Regions from separate parts of the Homo sapiens genome. Here region 1 is linked to region 2. Evidence: fine-mapped expression QTL. A gene starts in region 2. The other region holds a variant in brackets. All regions are shown on one strand. Distances are from middle to middle. Region 1 has its middle 27 kb from the start of ZNF627. Region 2 holds the start of ZNF627 (zinc finger protein 627).

Region 1 (9,949 bases), 28 kb after region 2:
TGAGAAGAGGGGAATTTGGGTCATGTTTATGATTTGGAACATGCTGTCTTTCACCAGTTTTAAAGACATGGTTACAGAATGCCCTTTTTTTGTCTTGATTCATCATAGCCACCTAGGAGCATGGTCTCACATTGCTGGTGTCTGACATGTTTCTCTCCAACAGCGTAAGACTTGGCCTTGCAGTGAGCGGAGGCTGGCTCCTGGACTTGTGGACCTGTTTTTGCCTTACTTATTCTCTGAACACTGAAGTATTTCCTGTGATGTACTGGACACTGTTTTCCATTATGTACCTCAGTTAAAATATGTAAATTTACTTCTTAGCAAGCTGTATAATACTTTTAAAAAGCTCCTTTACGAGTCTAATGAGACTAATATATTTATGCACATTTTCTGAATGCAAGCCTAGGAAGGGAACAAAGTCAGCATCAATATTCCAACCAAGCCTTTCTTGCTCCAATAATATGCTTTTGTTTTTGTTTTTGTGTTTTTGTTTTTTTAGACAAGAGTTTCACTCTTATCACCCAGGCTGGAGTGCAGTGGTGCAATCTCAACTCACTGCAACCTCTGCTTCCCGGTTCAAGTGATTGTCCTGCCTCAGCCTCCTGAGTAGTTGGGATTACAGGTGCCCACCATCACACCCGGCTAATTTTTGTTTCGTATTTTTAGTACAGACAGGGTTTCACCATGTTGGCCAGGCTGATCTCAAACTCCTGACTTCAGGTGATCTGGCCGCATCGGCCTCCTAAAGTGCTGGAATGGATTACAGGTATGAACCACTGTTCCTGGCATATATGCTTTTGCTTCTAATTTATCAATAGGCCTCTTATGCCAGCACTACAGAGTAAAAAGCAACATGCAAAAGTCAGCTTTTTGTCTGTACACTTCCACGGAACAATCCAATCACTTCGTTGAAGGTGTCCAGCAAGCTCTTGTTGAGAAAATCCCTGTTGAAACTTCTCAGTGTCAAAAGCCCAGGTATCACAGGATAGAGTAGCAATCAGCAACCAAACCATGACTGTATGTGGAGATGACATATTCAGCCCCAGATAATGTATTCACATGAGTGAAGGGTGGAGTCATTGCCTGTCAGATTCTACAGTCATTTGGATTAGAGAGGGCAATACAGAGTTAGGTGCTACTGAATCCAACCACTGAGTCCTTCTCCCTTGAAGGCAACACCCACAGTGATAGTGTGGGCCACAGAGTAGAAACCCCACCATCAACACGACTCCAAATGTGATTTTGCCCGGGATGCAGGTGCTGTGTTGGGATGCAGGTGCTGTGTGGGGATGACCAGTGAAGGTAGGGGACACTGGAAGCACAGGGTGAGGGAGATGAACAGGACACAGCTGAGCCTGATTATTGGCCTTGACTGTGGGAGTATCTTGATGCTTCACAAACACCCCAGAGAGGACATTGTAGCACAGGCCCAAAGAGTGTTCATAAACCAGAGGGCCACCACTTTTGGAAGGCAGTGATGTGGCTTTCTGTTTGAGTCCTGATGCTCTGTTGACAGCATACACTGTTCTTCATCTGATTAGAAAAGCAATGCCGGCTGGGCGCAGTGGCTCACGCCTCTAATCCCAGCACTTTGGGAGGCTGAGGTGGGCAGATCACCTGAGGTCAGGAGTCCGAGACCAGCCTGACCCGCCTTGGACCTATTGGACTGAACAAACGGGAGCAAACACAGGAATAAAAGACAAGAGACAAAAGAGTATATTTGGAAGAAGGGGTTGGGGGGCACCTTGCCTCTAGTGGACAAGGGCCCCGAGCTTTACACAGCCCTCTGTATTTATTAGACAAAAGAGCGAGAAAAGCGGGGGGTGATTGTTGGGTAATTGTCAGTTGGCCATTTGGTTCACACCAGGCTTGTGAGACTGCATCCTTTGGACAATAGGCACTAATTTTCTCAGTAGATAACTTCAAGGAGCCCAGTGCCAGGGAGTGATGTCCCTCAGCAAACCTTTTGGTGGCAGGGCAGTGAGTTTGCCCACATCCTGCATTCATGATAAACAGTTTGCTGTTTGATCCCATATAGACTCCTGCGGAATGCTGAGTTGGTCACGTCCCACGGGCCTTCGGCTCCCTGCATATCCCCCTTTTTGTTTATGTATTAATTGAAAGAATGTAAGGCCAGGCTGAGCAGCTCTCATTGTCCGATTGGCGGTCCATCTGATTTTACAGAAAACATAGCATTAGAACTGTGTTGTGACTCTGTTAGGCCTTCTCTCTCTCTTTGCACCCAGGCTCAGCTGGCTCATGGCTCGTACTGGAGGGACCGGGCCCATGGTTGGCCACCCTGGGTTCCTCCCGTCTCCCGTTCATGGTCGCACACACCTTGAGGGCACCCAAACGGTGTGCCCATCTCCTGTAGAAACACAAGCATGCTCTCTTCCCCATGTCAGTAAATCCACCGGACTTTTCCATTGTCCTTCTTCCAGGGATTTCCATAACACTTTCAGATAAACTTTCCTCTTTTCCTCTAACACTTGTCAATGTCTTTCTGCTGGAGTCTTACCATCCGGACCAGGAGCCAAAAAAATTTAAAGTAAATAAAAATAATAAAAAGTTCTGATTGAGGTGGTAAGTGGCCTCCTATACCCCCTTTTTGTTTTTTCAACATGTGTTGTAATGTTTGATGTGCCTGCTCTATAATGCCTTGTCCTCTAGGATTATAAGGAATTTCTATTTTATGGGTTATAGCCCAAAGCTGTAAGAAATTTTGAAAAGCATGGCCAGTATAAGTGGGTCCATTGTTAGTTTTTAATTGTTTAGGTATTCCCATATGAGCAAATGATGACAGATGATGTCACCATACATGACCAGCTGTCTCACCTGTTTGGCATGTAGCATGCAGCATTTGAGAATAAGTGAAATAAATTAAGCAGTTCTGGGTCTAGTGTACTTTTAACTGTAGCAGTTTCTACGCGACTGGCTACATTTACAACATAAGCTGAATCACAGACAATGTTGATAGGATCTGAAGCTGTGAGCTGTAAAACCTGAATGACTGCAGTTAGCTCTGAATGTTGAGCTGAAACCCCAGAGGTCGTTATTGTTTTGGGACCTTTTTGGAATCACAAATACTGGAGAATTCCAGGGGCTAACTGACTTTTCTTTTTTTTTTTGAGACAGTCTCGCTCTGTCGCCCACGCTGGAGTAAAGCTCTGTCTCCCGGGTTCATGCCATTCTCCTGCCTCAGCCTCCCAAGTAGCTGGGACTACAGGCGCCTGCAACCATGCCCAGCTATTTTTTTTGTATTTTTAGTGGAGACGGGGTTTCACTGTGTTAGCCAGGATGGTCTCGATCTCCTGACCTCGTGATCCTCCCGCTTGGGCCTCCCAAAGTGCTGGGATTACAGGCGTGAGCCACCGCGCCCGGCCTGCTAACTGACTTTTCTATATGTCCTGTGTTCAATTGCTCTTTTACCAACAGATGAAGTTCATCTAGCTTCTTTTGTGATAGGGGCCATTGATCCACCCACACAGGTTTGTCACTGAGCCATTCTAATGGTAAGGCAGTGGGCAAAGGAGAAATATCAAATATCAATGACCCCCCCGTCAGAAATCCTTGTGTCCTAGCCCTTTTCTATCTGTTTTTCCAGTTACTGATATCGGGTTAGGATTTCATTGTAGAAATTTCCCTAAACCTTTTTCACTCTGATATCCCATGTTCTTCAACATTTTAAATCCTGGATTATCAAAGTTTTCATTTGTAAGTCTCCTATCCCATGCTGTAAGTCTCGACCCCATAAATTGATGGCTATATTTGCAACATAAGGCTGCAAAGTCCAGAGCAAGCTTAAAGTTGTAAAAGTTCTTTAATAAATAAACAGAGTAACCTGATAGGACGGGCGCGGTGGCCCACGCCTGTAATCCCAGCACTTTGGGAGGCCGAGGCGAGCGGATCACGAGGTCAGGAGATCCAGACCATCCTGGCTAACACAGCGAAACCCCGTCTCTACTAAAAATACAAAAAATTAGCCGGGCGCGGTGGCAGGTGCCTGTAGTCCCAGCTACTCGGGAGGCTGAGGCAGGAGAATGGCGTGAACCCGGGAGGCGGAGCTTGCAGTGAGTGGAGATCGCACCACTGCACTCCAGACTGAGCGACAGAGCGAGCCTCCGTCTCAAAAATAAATAAATAAATAAATAAACAGAGTAACCTTAGCTCTCTGAGTGCTAGTAAACTCAGATCGAGTGATTGAATTATGTGGTCTCTACTAGCCTGCTGCTTTTCCATGTTTACCAGACCCATCAGTAAACCGTGTTAAAGCCTTAGGTATGGGGGAGTGAAATACCGCTTCGAATTGCCTTTTACTTAAACGAATCCTGATGATATGAGGGTCATAACTTAGCATTTGGACTGCATTAATCATTAAGATTGCTAGCTGAAATAGTAATAAGTTTAAAAAGAAAATCTGAACGCGTCTCTAGAAGCAGAGACTTAAATGATATACTTTAACCATGTGCTTAAAACCACGGGCGGAATAGCTTAAATCTTGTAATTGAGTTTTTGGGCTGACCAAGTTTATGGACTTTAATCTGGCAAACAGTCTTGAAAACAGTGACTCACTGGCTGGGGAACTCAATTTAGGACTCTTTTAGCAAGTACAAATCACACTATCTGTAATCAGTGGGTAAGACAGTCATTCATGCATAAGTTTTCACTACACTTACAACTTTTCTTCACTTTCTGAGAAGGACACAACATTTTTACCTTCTAATTTGACAAATATCATTTAATTAGGTTTAAAGTTCTCCTTTAAAGGGTAATGTGTGGTTTTACATGCCTAGCTTTTAATTACTCATTAATGAATTCGTGGGCCCTCTGTAATCTCTTTCCCTTCAGAGGTTACTGTTTTACTTAAATTGAATTTGGAAAGCTACCTTAGGGGTAGGAGAGAGATAACAGTGGCCATTATTAGAAAAGAGGTTTTTCAAATTCTTACATTTTACTTAAATCTTAGCAGAGAATCATAGTCTGGGACGTACGTAACACATGAACTTTTGCTATGGGCTGCTCACAGAGCCAGAGGGCTGCGGTGCAGGTCCTTGG[C/T]GGCGGCCGCATTGTACTTGCTCAGGTTTTGCCTGTGTCTGCGCCGCTCCCTCCCTCCTTTGCCGGGGGTGGGGCATGCTGCCAGCCTGGGCGGACCTTGTGGGCTTGGTCGCTGCCAGCTTTTCTGCTGCTGAACCTTCTATTCCGCCCACCGCTTGCTTGGTCGCGCGGTTTCGGCTTCTAATGCCTTTTTTCTTTCTTTTTTTTTGAGACGGAGTTTTTGCTCTTGTTGCCCAGGCTGGAGTGCAATGGCGCGATCTCGGCTCACCGCAACCTCCGCCTTCCAAGTTCAAGCGATTCTCCTGCCTCAGCCTCCCGAGTAGCTGGGATTACAGGCACTTGCCACCACGCCCGGCTAATTTTGTATTTTTAGTAGAGACAGGGTTTCTCCATGTTGCTCAGGCTGGTTTCGAACTCCCGACCTCAGGTGATCTGCCCACCTCAGGTGATCTGCCCGCCTCAGCCTCCCAAAGTGCTGGGATTACAGGCATGAGCCACCTCGCCCGGCCTTTCTTATCTTTTTACAGACATACACCTGCTTGCCTTGCCGATTTTGCATTACTGAGCAGGTTAAGAGCTCTCCTTCTAATGCTGCCTGCTCAAGACAGGGACTGATAGCTGTAGCGTATCCTCTGTCCTTTTTCCTATCTATTGGAGGAGGAGGCTTAGGTAAGACCTCTGTTTCCTCTTTGTTATTTTTGGCCCAGTGATATTGGGGCTGAGGGAAGAGAAGGTGATAAGGCAGGTGACGTTTTCTCCTCCTTCCTCTTTTTAGGCTCTTCTGTGTGTAAACTGAGCCAGGACTGCTCTAATTAAAGCCCATAACGTTAAAGATTTTACTGGGACCTGATGCCTTTGCACCTGATGTTGTTCAAGATTTCTCCCCACTCATTCCCAGAGTTCTAAGCCTAGCGTTCCTTCTTCCGGGAACCATGGGCTTATGTACTCCATTATTGACCACACTAGTTTTTAATTCCTTCAACAACTTAAATTCTAGTGGGGTGTGTTCATGAATAAACTGCTGTGGATTATTTGAATCGGGCCTTACGGAAATAGGAAAAGTGCAAGGTCCTAAGGGCTCTCCAGCTATGGCAGCAGAGCATAAAGTTGTTTGTTTTGGGGTCTCTATTTCTGCTACTGAAGGAGGCAGTACAGATGTTTCTGCGATTGGAGGAGGCGGTATAGGCCAATTTTTATCCTCCCTCACCTGTTTTTTATTTTCAGTTGGCGCTGTGGGTGGGACAACAGATTCTTTCAGATTTTTAGACTCAGCCTGCTGTCCCGCAGAATAATAAGGAGCTAATGGCAGAAGTACAGTATGAACTAAACTCCAAGTGGAGAAAACTGAAGAATCAACTTTAAAACCTTTTTGATGAGCCTGTTTTAATCCTTCTCCTGCTCTGTCCCAATTTTCCGCATCAAGAGTGCCTGCCTGTGGAAACCATGGGTGATGCGTGAATAACCATTTGTGGCTTCTGCAGGAGGTTAGTTAGTGCCTGCGAATTAACCTGAGCTCCAGACTGTCTCAACAGAAACTTAAGCAAGTGCACATAATGTTTTTCTTCAGTAGACAAATTCTTCCCCTTGTTAACCTGATTCAGAAAACTTCCCCTTCCCAGTACTTCTTTAAAGCACTGCCCCCAGTACTTCTTTAGGGCACTGACCTTACATACGCTATCGGCAGACTCATCCCGGAGTCCCCGTGCGTCTTGTCAATTTCAGTTCCTCTACTCCAGCAGACCTTCTTCGTTCACGTCCTCATAGTCCCGTGTTTGGACTGCCGCCTGTTCGAGTGCCACTTATAGAGCTTCCGATCCTGTCGCTGTTTGGGGTGCCACTGTGTAACCTGCACGGACCTAGGGGGACTGAACAAAGGGGGGCGAACGTGGGAATAAAAGACAAGAGACAAAAGAGTATATTTGGAAGAAGGGATGGGGGCAGCACCTTGCCTCTAGTGGACAAGGGCCCCGAGCTTTACACAGTCCTCCGTATTTATTAGGCCAAAGGGATAGTGAGAAAAGAGGGAGTGATTGTCGGGTAATTGTCAGTTGGCCGTTTGGTTCTGTTTGGTTCACAGCAGGCTTGTGAGACTGCATCCTTTGGACAATAGGCACTAATTTTCTCAGTAGATAACTTCAAGGAGCCCGGTGCCAGGGAGTGATGTCCCTCAGCAAACCTTTTGGTGGCAGGGCAGTGTGAGTTTGCCCACAACCTGCATTCATGATAAACAGTTTGCTGTTTGATCATATAGACTCCTGCGGAATGCTGAGTTTGTCGTGTCCCAGCGGCCTTTGGCTCCCTGCACTGACCATCATGGAGAAACCCCGCCTCTACTAAAAATACAAAATTAGCCAGGTGTGGTTGCGCATACCTGTAATCCCCGCTACTTGGGAGGCTGAGACAGGAGAATCGCTTGAACTCTGGAGGTGGAGGTTGCGGTGAGCTGTGATCACGCCATTGCACTCCAGCCTGGGCAAAAGCGAAATTCTGTCTCCAAAAAAAAAAAAAAAAAAAAAAAAAAAAAAGAAAGAAAGAAAGAAAAGAAAAGAAAAAAGAAAAGCAACGCTGCAGTTTGTAAGTTTCAACAATTTAGAATTAAAAGTTATTTTGGCAATCTAGGACTCATTCTTCATTCTGGCTGCAGACAGAGCTATGGATAGGGAATGTCACACATATTTTTAAGGTTATGTTGTCTTTTATGTTAAATGGATAACATTTCCACTTTGCGTTTCCATATGCAATGGAAGGCCAAGGCAGCAGAATCCCTTGAGGCCAAGACTTCAAGACCAGCCGGGCAATATAGTCAGACTGTGTCTCTACAAAATATTTTTTAAATTGTTTATATAATTTATGAGATTCCAGTGTCATGCTGTCAGCTAATATTAGGAAATTAGTAGGTGTGACTATGGTATTCTGGTTATGAGAAATGCTTCAATTTATTTTATTTTATTTTTTTTTTGAGACGGAGTTTCGCTCTTGTTGCCCAGGCTGGAGTGCAGTGGTGTGATCTCAGCTCACTGCAACCTCCGCCTCCTGGGTTCAAACGATTCTCCTGCCACAGCCTCTCAAGTAGCTGGGATTACAGGCATGCGCCACCAGGCGCAGCTAATTTTTGTAGTTTTAGTAGAGACGGGTTTCACCGTGTTGGCCAGGATGATCTCCATCTCTTGACCTCGTGATCCGCTCGCCTCAGCTTCCCAAAGCGCTGGGATTACAGGCATGAGCCACCGCGCCCAGCCTTTTTTTTCTTTTCTTTTCTTTTTTTTTTTTTTTTTGAGACGGAGTCTTGCTCTGTCGCCCAGGCTGGAGTGCAGTGACGCGATATCCGCTTACTGCAAGCTCCGCCTCCCGGGTTCACGCCATTCTCCTGCCTCAGCATCCCGAGTAGCTGGGACTACAGGCGCCCGCCACCACGCCCGGCTAATTTTTTGTATTTTTAGTAGAGACGGGGTTTCACCGTGTTAGCCAGGATGGTCTCGATCTCCAGACCTCGTGATCTGCCCCCCTCGGCCTCCCAAAGTGCTGGGATTACTTACATGCTTGAGCCACCGCGCCCGGCTTTTTTTTTTTTAACAGTCTCGCTCTGTCACCCAGGCTGGAGTGCAGTGGCGTGATTTCGGCTCACTGCAACCTCCGCCTACCAGATTCAAGCGATTCTCGTGCCTCAGTCTCCTGAGTAGCTGGAATTATAGGCGTGTGCCACCACTCCTGACTAATTTTTGAATTTTTGGTAGAGATGAGGTTTCACCATGTTGGCCAGGCTGGTCTCAAATTCCAGACCCCATGTGATCCGCCTGCTGTGGCCTCCCAAAGTGCTGGGATTACAGGTATGAGCCACTGTGCCCAGCCTCAGAAGTGCTTCCGTTCTTGAGATGTGAAAATTGCCTTTTTAGATATACGTTAAAAAAAAAAAAATAGAGATGGAGCCTTAGTATGTTGACCAGGCCGGTCTGGAACTCCTGGCATTAAGCGATCATCCCATCTAGGCCCCCCATAGTGCTAGGATTACAGGCATGAGTAACCACACCTGAGATGTTTTATATTTGCAGTTTTTAATAAAGCAAAGTCAAAAAGAACAATTTTTAGGATAAATGACCTTAGGTTGAAAACATTTTTATTTTCAAGGAAAAATTTGTGAATTCATTCCTGTACCAAAAAATTACATCCAGTTCATTTACTACAGCATGAAATTTTATTGAAAAGAACTTAATAATTTCAAATGTGAGCAGAGGTTATTTTATTCTTTCCTTTCACTTACTGTCTGTCTCCCTGAGTTTCTTTCTTTTTTTTTTTTTTTTTTTTGAGACAGAGTTTCACTCTTGTTGCCCAGGTTGGAGTACAATGGCGTGATCTTGGCTGACTGCAGTCTCTGCCTCCTGGGTTCAAGCAATTTTCCTGCCTCAGCCTCCCGAGTAGCTGGGATTACAGGCATGCACCACCATGCCCGGCTAATTTTGTATTTTTAGTAGAGACGGGGTTTCTCCATATTGAGGCTGGTCTCGAACTCCTGACCTCAGGTGATCCTCCCGCCTCAGCCTCCCAAAGTGCTGGGATTACAGGCGTGAGCCATCACACCTGGCTGGATCTTTTACCTACCATATAGGTAAAACCATGGTCAAAAGTGATACAGAAGCAGGAGGAGCAAGATGGCCAAATAGAACCCTCCAGTGATTGTTCCCCCAACAAGAACACCAAATTGAACAGCTATCCACACAAAAAGTAACTTAGGCTGGGCGCAGTGGCTCACACCGGTAATCCCAGCAGTTTGGGAGGCTGAGGCAGGCAAATCACGAGGTCAGGAGTTCAAGACCAGCTTGGCCAATATGGTGAAACACCGTCTCTAGTAAAAAATACAAAATTAGCTGGGCATGGTGGTGTGCACCTGTAATCCCAG
Region 2 (9,949 bases):
CAGGCTGGAGTGCAGTGGTGTGATCTCGGCTCACCGCAACCTCTGCCTCCTGGGTTCAAGCGATTCTCCTGCCTCAGCCTCCTGAGTAGCTGGGATTACAGGTGTGCGCCATTACGCCTGGCTAATTTTGTATTTTTAGTAGAGACAGGGTTTCTCCATGTTGGTCAGGCTGGTCTCAAACTCCCGACCTCAGGCAATCCGCCTACCTCGGCCTCCCAAAGTGCTGGAATTACAGGCGTGAGCCACCACGCCTGGCCCAGATACTCTATTTTTATAGTTTCCTCTTCTTTTATGTTATTTTTTAAAATTTTTATTTACTTATTTATTTGAGGTAGGATCTCACTCTGTGACCTAATCTGGAGTGCAGTGGCGTGATCACGGCTTACTGTAGCCTGGACCTTCCGGGCTCAAACAATCCTTCCACCTCAGCCTCCCAAGTAGTTAGGACCATAGGTGCCCACCACCATGACTGGCTAATTTGTTAATTTTTCCATAGAGATAAGGTCTCACTATGTTGCCCAGGCTGGTCTTGAACTCCTGAGCTCAAGCGATCCTCTTGCCTGGACTCCCAAAGTGCTAGGATTACTGGCGTGAGCCACCGCCCCCGGCTCTTTTATGTTGTTAATGTCACAAATCACATCTTTATATATTGAGTGCCCAATATCATAGAAATATAATTATTTTTATTACTTTTCTTGAGAAAGCATCTCGCTCTTGTTGCCCAGGCTGGAGTGCAGTGGCGTGATCTCAGCTCACTGCAACCTCCACCTCCCGAGTTCGAGCGATTCTCCTGCCTCAGCCTCCCAAGTAGCTGGGATTACAGGCATGTACCACCATGCACAGCTAATTTTGTATTTTTAGTAGAGACAGGGTTTCTCCATGTTGGTCAGGCTGGTCCGGAACTCCCAACCTCAGGTGACCTGCCTGCCTCGGCCTCCCAAAGTGCTGGGATTACAGGCATGAGCCACCATCCCCGGCTTTCTTTTTTTCTTTTTGAGACAGAGTCTCGCTCTGTCACCCAGGCTGGAGTGCAGTGGTGCGATCTCAGCTCACTGCAACCTCCGTCTCCCAGGATCAAGCAATTCTCCTGCCTCAGCCTCCTGAGTAGCTGGGATTACAGGCATGCTCCACCACATGCGGCTAATTTTAGTATTTTTAGTAGAGATGGGGTTTCACCATATTGGCCAGGCTGGTCTTGAACTCCTGACCTCAAATGATCCACACACCTCGGCCTCCCAAAGTGCTGGGATTATAAGCATGAGGCACCGTGCCTGGCCGGTCTTTTCTTAATTCTTTTTTTCTGGGCCTCTGTGGTAACTGTAATTTCCTCTGTGGCTGCCTTTGAATGACCTAATTGTCAATGTCTGGGTCCCAAGAGAAAAATAAAATAACAAAAGTGCAAAAAGAAAATAAAATTTCGGCTGAGCGAGGTAGCTCTTGCCTATAATCCCAGCACTTTGAGGGGCTGAGGTGCGAAAATCGCTTGAGTTCAGGAGTCCTAGACCAGCCTGGGCAACATAGCGAGACATTGTCTCTACTAAACCTAAAAAAATATTATCCGCGTATGGTGGCACTTGCCTGTGGTCCCAGTTACTCGGGAGGCTGAGGTGGGGGGATTGCTTGATCCCAGGAGATCGATGCTGCAGTGAGCTATAATAGCACCACTGCACGCTATCCTGGGTGACAGAGCAAGACCTTGTCTTAAAAAAAAAAAAAAAAAAGAAAAAAATCAATACCTTCCAAATTCATTATGCGAAGGGGAAAATTAAGCACTTAAGTCCTAGAAACTGAGTCTTATAATACAGCTTCTCTGATGCATGACTGATGCTTCCTTACCTTTGTTTTGAGACTGTAGCCATCAGACTCCTTGTTCTTCATTCAAACCTATACTAAATGATGTAGGATATGTATACCCTTGCGACTGTTACCGCTTTACAATAGAATGTTAAGCAACCCCCATAGAGTGTAATCAACAGTAGTCAATCACATCTGTTTTTTTTTTTATTTTAATTTTTTTTTTTATTTTGAGACAGAGTCTTGCTCTGTCACCCAGGCTGGAGTGCAGTGGCATGATCTTGGCTCACTGCAACATCTACTTCCTGGATTCAAGCCATTCTCGTGCCTCAGCCTCCTGAGTAGCTGGGATTACAGGCATGTGTCACTATGCCCAGCTACTTTTTGTATTTTTAATAGAGACAGATTTTCACTATGTTGGCCAGGTTGGTCTTGAACCCCTGACGTCAGGTGATCCACCTACCTAGGTCTTCCAAAGTGTTGGGATTACAGGTGTGATCCACGGCACCCAGCCTCAAATCTTATGTCTGTATATTAACATCTGTATGGAAATGTATTTCTGTTCAGCACCTCTGTTTTTGCCTATATAGACAATTTTCACTTTTCCCCACACTGGGATCATTGATCACTATTCTTCGGTGTCAGCATGTCCCTGATGGCCACCCTTGTACTCTGTGTTTGAATAAACTCTTTTTTTTTTTTTTTTTTGAGACAAGGTCTCTGTCATCTAGGCTGGAGTGCAGTGGTGCCATCATAGCTTACTGCAACCTCGATTTCCTGAGATCAAGTGATCCTCCCGTCCTAGCCCCCCGAGTAGCTGGGACTACAGGTGCACCCTATCATGCCCAGCTTATTAAAAACAATATATTTTTTTGAGAGACAGGGTCTCACTATATGGTCCAGGCGGGTCTCAAACTCCTGTGCTCAAGCCGTCCTCCAGCCTTGACCTCCCAAAATGCTGGGATTATAGATATGAGCCACTGTGCCTGGCCTTGAATAAACTATTTTAACTGGATCTTGAGCCTTTCGATTATTTTAGGTTGACAAAGGGAAAAAAATAAAAGGCATCAGCTCTTTATATCCCCCACCACGCCTGGCTAATTTTTTGTAGTTTTAGTAGAGACGGGGCTTCACCGTGTTAGCCAGGATGGTCTCAATCTCCTGACCTCCTGATCCGCCTGCCTCGGCCTCCCAAAGTGCTGGGATTACAGGCATGAGTCACTGCACCCGGCCAATTTTTGTATTTTTTTGTAGAGATGGGGTGGGAGGGTTTACTATGTGGCCCAGACTGGTTTCAAACTGCTAGGCTCAAGCAATCCTCCCGTCTTGGCCTCCCAAAGTGCTAGGATTGGAGGCATGAGCCACTGTGCTCAGCCCCTGGCTAATTTTCATATTTTTTAAATGGGGTTAGGGGTTGGTCTCACTATGTTGCCCAGGCTGGTTTCAAACTCCCGGGCTCAACTGATCCTCCTGCCTTGACCTCCTAAACTGCTGGGATTACAGGCATGAGCCACCATGCCTGGCCATAGATTCTTTATGATTTTTATTCTGCCATCTTCCCTGAATCCTCCAACCTGCCTTTTTTTTTTTTTTCAGGCAAAGTCTTGCTCTGTCGCCCAGGCTGATGTGCAGTGGCACGATCTCAGCTCACTGCAACCTCCACCTCCCAGGTTCAATAATTTTTTGTATTTTTAGTAGAGACGGGGTTTCACTATATTGGCCAGGCTGGTCTCAAACTCCTGACCTCGTTATCCTCCTGCCTCAGCCTCCCAAAGTGCTGGGATTACAGGCATGAGCCACTGTGCCCAGCTTAACCTGCCTTTTTTTTTGAGACAGTTTCTCTCTTGTTGACCAGGCTAAAGTGCAATGGTGTGATCTTGGCTCACCGCAACCTCCACCTCCCCGATTCAAGCGATTCTCCTGCCTCAGCCTCCCGAGTAGCTGGGATTACAGGCATGTGCCACCAGGCCCGGCTAATTTTGTATTTTTATTTATTTATTTATTTTATTTTATTTATTTATTTATTTTTGAGACGGAATCTCGCTCTCTCTCCCAGTCTGGAGCGCAGTGGCGCCATCTCGGCTCACTACAAGTTCCGCCTCCCAGGTTCACGCCATTCTCCTGCCTCAGCCTCCCGAGTAGCTGGGACTACAGGCGCCCACTGCCACGCCCGGCTAATTTTTTGTATTTTTAGTAGAGATGGGGTTTCACCGTGTTAGCCAGGATGGTCTCGATCTCCAGACCTCGTGATCTGCCCGCCTCGGCCTCCCAAAGTGCTGGGATTACAGGCATGAGCCACGGCGCCTGGCCTAATTTTGTATTTTTAGTAGAGATGGGGTTTCTCCATGTTCCGAACTCCCGACCTCAGGTGATCCGCCTGCCTCGGCCTCCCAAAGTGCTAGATTACAGGCGTGCTCCATCGCACCCAGCCCAACCTGCCTTTTAATACTAATACATTACTTTGGGTCTCATCCCACATCACTTCATCAGAGAGCATCCTTCCTCTCACCTCAGTTATTTCTACTTTTTTTTCCACGTATAGATGTTTTTTCAGGGACCGGAGGGTATGGGAGGAAGCCTTGGCACGCCTCATCCCAAATGCCCGTTTCCCGGAACATCAGGCCCTTCCTCCTCTTCCTGTCCTCCCTGGCCTAGCCTGGGCTCCCTCCCGTTCTGAGGCAAGGCGATTGCTCCATGTCACAGTGAGTGTGGAGTTCCCTGCACATACTGGTGACCTTGTGTCCGGAAGGAATTAGAAGGAAGAGCTCATGGAGTGCCAGAAGAAGACAGTGCCTACTCTGGCAAGCTAGAAGCAAGCTCTGCATTAAATGCAAATATTGGCCGGGCACGGTGGCTCACATTTGTAATCCCAGCACCTGGGGAGGCCTAGGCAGGAGGATCACTTGAGCCCAGGAATTCACGACCAGCCTGGTCAACATAGTGAGACCCCATCTAACCCACCCCACCCCCGTCACACACACAGCACCAACAACAAAATAAAATTAGCAGAGTGTGGTGGGGCGTGACTTTGGTCCCAGCTACTAGGGAGGCTGAGGCAGGAGGATCGTTTGAGCCCGGGAGATTGGGGCTGGAGTGAGCCGAGATCATGCCACTGCAGTCCAGCCTGGGTGACAGAGCAAGACCCTGAAAGAAAAAAAAGAAAGGAGGGAGGGAGGGAGGATGGAAGGAAGGAAGGAAGGAAGGAAGGAAGGAAGGAAGGAAGGAAGGAAACCAAAACAAGGCCACGCGTGGTGGCTCACGCCTGTAATCCCAGCACTTTGGGAGGCTGAGGTGGGCGTATCACTTGAGGTCAGGAGTTAGAGACCAGCCTCGGTAACATGGCGAAACCCCGTCTCTACGAAAAATACAAAAATTAGCCAGGCGTGGTGGCGGGTGCCTGTAATTCAGCTACTCGGGAGGCTGAGGCACGAGAATCGCTTGAACCCGGGAGGCAGAGATTGCAGTGAGCTGAGATCGCGCCACTGCACTCCAGCCTGGGCGACAAAAGCGAAACTCCGTCTCAAAAAAAAAAAAAAAAAAAAACCAAAACAAACCCTCAAATATCCCTCGGGCTGGGTGCAGGGAGGAAACTCGGCCTGAGAGGCGCAGTGGCTAGAACCAGTCAACACTGCTACGCACAGCCACGTTTCCATGGCTTCCTACGTCACTCAGGCCTTAGGGGGCGGGGTATGTCACCCTATCCAATCAGGGGCGCTGGGGCGGGGCCCTGCCAACTGTCCATTCAGATGGGCCCGGGAGAGGAGGGCAGGGCCTGCGCCTCCCTACGGAGCCTTTGTTTCTGGCGACCGTCCCCACCCGGGCTCGCGTCTCCGTTTCTCCGAGAGGCCCAAGGTGTCTCCGCCGCAGCCTCTGTCGCGCCGTGACCTGTACAGGTCGCGGGAGTCGTAGGGAGGACGCCGGGACACCTGGAAGCCGAGAAATGGTGCGTGTGAGGGGTCAGGCGTCCCCAGACCTGGGGGAGGGGCTGGTTGGAACCGGCCGGAACCGGCTGTGGAGGGACCTAGGCCTCCCTGCGGCGACTCCGGGGTCTGGGACCCGAGTTCCCTCGGCCGCAAGGTGGGGCTGGGCCAGGAGCTGGGACCCCGGTCGTCCTGTCCCGTCCCTGCGCGACGCCTGCGGCCCCGCAGCCCCGCGTCTCCCCACATGGTGCGGGGGCCGCGGGAGGGTCATGGGGGTATCCCTCCTCGGATGTGGTTCGTGTTGCAGGAGCTGCGGTCTGTGGCCGCCCCCCACAGTCCCGCCTTTCTCCCGTTAAAAATTTAGAGTTTATTTGAGCAAACAGCGGCTCATCGATGGAGAAGCTCCCGGTCGTGGTTTGTGGCTTGGGGATCCGTTGGAGGGAATGGAAGGAAAGGCTGTAAGGTGCAGGAGGAAGCGAACCAAATTCAGTACTTGGTTGGTGACAGTTATGCAGTCGCCTTATTTGCTCTATCTAGGTGGACATTTTCTGCTTATGTAGTCAGAGGTGGATTGGTGGTTGTGGTTTATTAACCCTAAATTTTATTTCCTTATAAACTGGTAATTTATAAGAATTTCATTTGAGGCTGGAGCGCGGTGGCTCACGCCTGTAATCGCAGCGCTTTTGGAGGCCAAGACAGGAGGATCGCTTGGGCCCAGGAGTTGAAGATCAGCCTCGCAATATAGCGAGACCCCATCTCTGTTAATTTTTTTTAAATGAACATATTCAGACTGAGACCAAAAAACTACTACAAATTTTTAAAATATAAAATCAAATAAAAGAATTTCATTCGACTTAGATTTCTGTTTCCTTGGGTAGGAAACCAGGACACCATAGCCACAGCCCTCTAATTGTCTCCAAATTAATTATTTTAACACTCCCCAGGGGGACAGGGTCCCAAATCCTTGACCTTGTTCCCCTAGCCTGACTCCTCTGGCGCTTGCAAATAATTCTTGATACCACTTCTTTCACCATATTCCCAAAAGGTAACTCCAGTCACGACATTATCAACTCTTTGTCCTTTATTGCACATTTCAAACTAATTAATTTGTATTATTTTTTCAAGGAGCAATCGATTGGTCTTTTAAAAATATTTGCTTTCTGTTTCTGAACATTTCACAGGAGAGGAAAGCAGAGAATACATGTATGAGACCCTGCTGTGAAAAAACCTTTGTGCCTCTTCTCCTTTTCTCTCTCCTAGGCACAGGGATGTTCTCAGAATGTCTTTTGGTTGGCCTGGTGCCATGGCTCATGTCTGTAATCCCAACACTTTGGGAGGCCAAGGCGGGAGGATCACCTGAGGCCAGGAGTTTGAGACCAGCCTGAGCAACATAGTGAGACCCGGACCCTAAAATAAAAAAAACAAAAAACAGTGTCTTTGGGTTGGGGTTCCCCTTTGGAAACTTTAAACTGTGATATGTCTTCAGAGCATCCTCCTTTCCTGGTCCTGGGCTTCAGGGCTGTTTGGGCTGACACAGGATGCCCACAGCAGCCAGATCTGTTGAAGGGTCTGGTATCAGCCTGCTCCCACTGGACAGCCTGAAGTACGGGGTGGGGCCTCTTAGTGGAGGAGCTGGGTGTCCTGGGGTCGGAGGAATCTCTTGATATCCCCTCCCTCTCAAAGCTCACCCCTGGGACACTCAGCTTTTCTTCCCCTAATTCCAGATCCCATTCCTTGGGGGACACATTGGTGTCCAGCCAAATGGATGATGGTATTGAGGGGAAAAACAGATATGATTCTTGCCCTCTGGATTCTTTTAGACTGGTGAAGTGAGAAAACTTATCCCAAGGACAGGAAAACCCATCCCACTGAGGTGATGCAAGAACTTGAAAAGCAAAATGTACTTCAGGCAGATGGAGGCAAAATGCAGTGTCTCTTGGAAGGGTGGTCACTGAGCCCTTCAGTGAGCAGGTTAGGGGGTGGACGATATCCCAGGTGATAGAATGACCTGACTTAGGCCGGGCGCGGTGGCTCACACCTGTAATCCCAGCACTTTGGGAAGCTGAGGTGGGCGGATCACTTGAGGCCATGAGTTCGAGACCAGCCCGGCCAACATGGCGAAACCCTGTCTCTACTAAAAAATACAAAAATTAGCTGGGTGTGGTGGCAGGTGCCTCTAATCTCAGCTACTGGGGAGGCTGAGGCATGAGAATCGCTTTAACGTGGGAGGCAAAGGTTGCAGTGAACCGAGATCACACCACTGCACCCCAGCCTGGGTGACAGAGCGAGACTCTGTCTCAAAAAAAAAGATGTGAAACTTGAGTCAGACGTACCTCTGTTCCAGGTTAGCGCAGCCCCTTCCTGGGTTTGTCCCCTGCAAAAGATTTGTTCACTTATTGCAGTTTCAGTTTTTTTCTTTTTTAAGTAACTATAAATGTATTTCATCAGTAGACCTTGAAATATAAGACAGTTTTGCAAAGAGGCAAGAAGGAAGTGGATTTCAGAAAACATTAAATATCTAGTCTTATGTTTGTTAAAAATTATTACTTATGGCTGGGCGCGATGGCTCACGCATGTAATCCCAGCACTTTGGGAGGCTGAGGCAGGCAGATCACGAGGTCAGGAGATCGAGACCATCCTGGCTAACACAGTGAAACCCTGTCTCTACTAAAAACACAAAAAATTAGCTGGGCATGGTGGCGGGTGCCTGTAGTGCCAGCTACTTGGGAGGCTGAGGCAGGAGAATGGCATGAACCTGGGAGGCGGAGCTTGCAGTGATCCATGATTGCGCCACTGCACTGCAGCCTGGGCAACAGAGCAAGACTCCATCTCAAAAAAAAAATTATTATTTTTTTCTTTCCCAAAGCAAGTGTAGTAAGTTTCTCAAGTATGTTGTTTTTTTTTGTGGGGGTGGGGTGTGGTGATTTAAAATGGAATTCCAGGGCTTAGTGTTGGGAATACTAAGGAAAAGAGAGAGAGAAAACTCTCTTCTATCATGACTGCAGAAAATGAATACATTTCCACAAGTAAGTGTAGCAAATAAATTGGTGAATTACAGAGATTCACCAAAACATCAATTCCTCTGCTTTGCAGGGTGGCAAACTTGTGACAGTGGATAACTGTTCTCTTCCTGTTATCTAGACATCAGAGTTTAATGCGAAGTCCTAGTAGGACAGGACTTGGTAACTCCTAGAAGTGTTCCAATATGATTTAGTACATGATTTGTTACCATAGAAAGAATAAATAACATGTTTATTGTCTGAAGAGGATGGATACTTTTACTTTTCCTGTTAAGGTATGAAATATAAGTGCCTTACAATTTCCTTCCTTGCTATAAACAGTGAATTTGAGTGATTTTACTGGAATCTTCAAACCCTGGGTATTTTCTCATTGAAAATTAAATGCATAACCTTGACTGGGAAACAGAGACAGCAGACTAGTGACTTGAAACTAAGACCAATCTTGAGCCTTCAAAGAGAGGACATTACAGGCCCAGTGGTTCTTGCTGAGGAGCCTCCCCTGCAGTGTCCCAGCTGCTCACAACTGACTTTGGGTGGAGCCCTTTATAGTGAGAGAAGCTCAGAGCCCTGGAAAGCTGGGGATTCATAGGCAGAGGTGGTTGAGGTGATGCCTTTCTGAGAATGTACTTGCTATTATCTTGGGTCTGTTTGTAGACGTTTCTAATGAAACAAATCTGGATTTAGGTAAGGAGTGATTTATTTTATTTTTATTTATTTATTTTTTTTGTGTGTGACAGGGTCTCACTCTGTCTCCTAGGCTGGAGTGCAGTGGTGCGATCATAGCTCACTGTAGCCTTGATCTCCTGGGCTCAAGGAATTCTCTCACATCAGCCTCCCAAGTACCTAGGACTAAAGGCATGTGCCATGATGCCTGGCTTATATTTTTAAAAAAGTTTTTTTAAGAGAGACAGGACGTTGTTATGTTGCCCAGACTGGTCTCTAACTCCTGGCCTCGAGCAATCCTCCCACCGTAGCCTCCCCAAATTCCAGGATTATGGGGGTGGGGCGGGGAGCACCACCACACCAGACAGGAATGACTATTCTAAAGGATAATCGAAAGGGGAGAAGGCACCAAGTATAAAATCTTCAAGCATCTCAGGCTGGGCGTGGTGGCTCACGTCTGTAATCCATGCACTTTGGGAGGCCGAGGTGGGTGGATCACAATGTTAGGAGTTTGAGACCAGCCTGACCAACATAGTGAAACCCCATCTCTAC

What was found. PIP is the estimated chance that this variant, and not a neighbour inherited with it, causes the effect.
Region 1: its variant is the best candidate, but not a certain one, in a credible set for the expression of ZNF627 in whole blood (INTERVAL, PIP 0.65).

The regions. Positions count from the first base shown.
Region 1 is chr19:11,619,688-11,629,636 of GRCh38, forward strand. It overlaps the pseudogene VN2R12P. Among named protein-coding and RNA genes, the nearest start is that of ZNF627, 27 kb to the left of the region's middle. RefSeq lists an enhancer at 3,951-4,451. The variant C/T (reference allele first, on the strand shown) is at 5,056.
Region 2 is chr19:11,591,894-11,601,842 of GRCh38, forward strand. It overlaps ZNF627 (zinc finger protein 627), which reads left to right and starts at 5,590. Exons shown (of 4, transcript NM_145295.4): 1 at 5,590-5,737. The coding sequence starts at 5,735. RefSeq lists silencers at 5,375-5,504, 5,845-5,984, 7,951-8,030 and enhancers at 5,529-6,527, 5,615-5,694.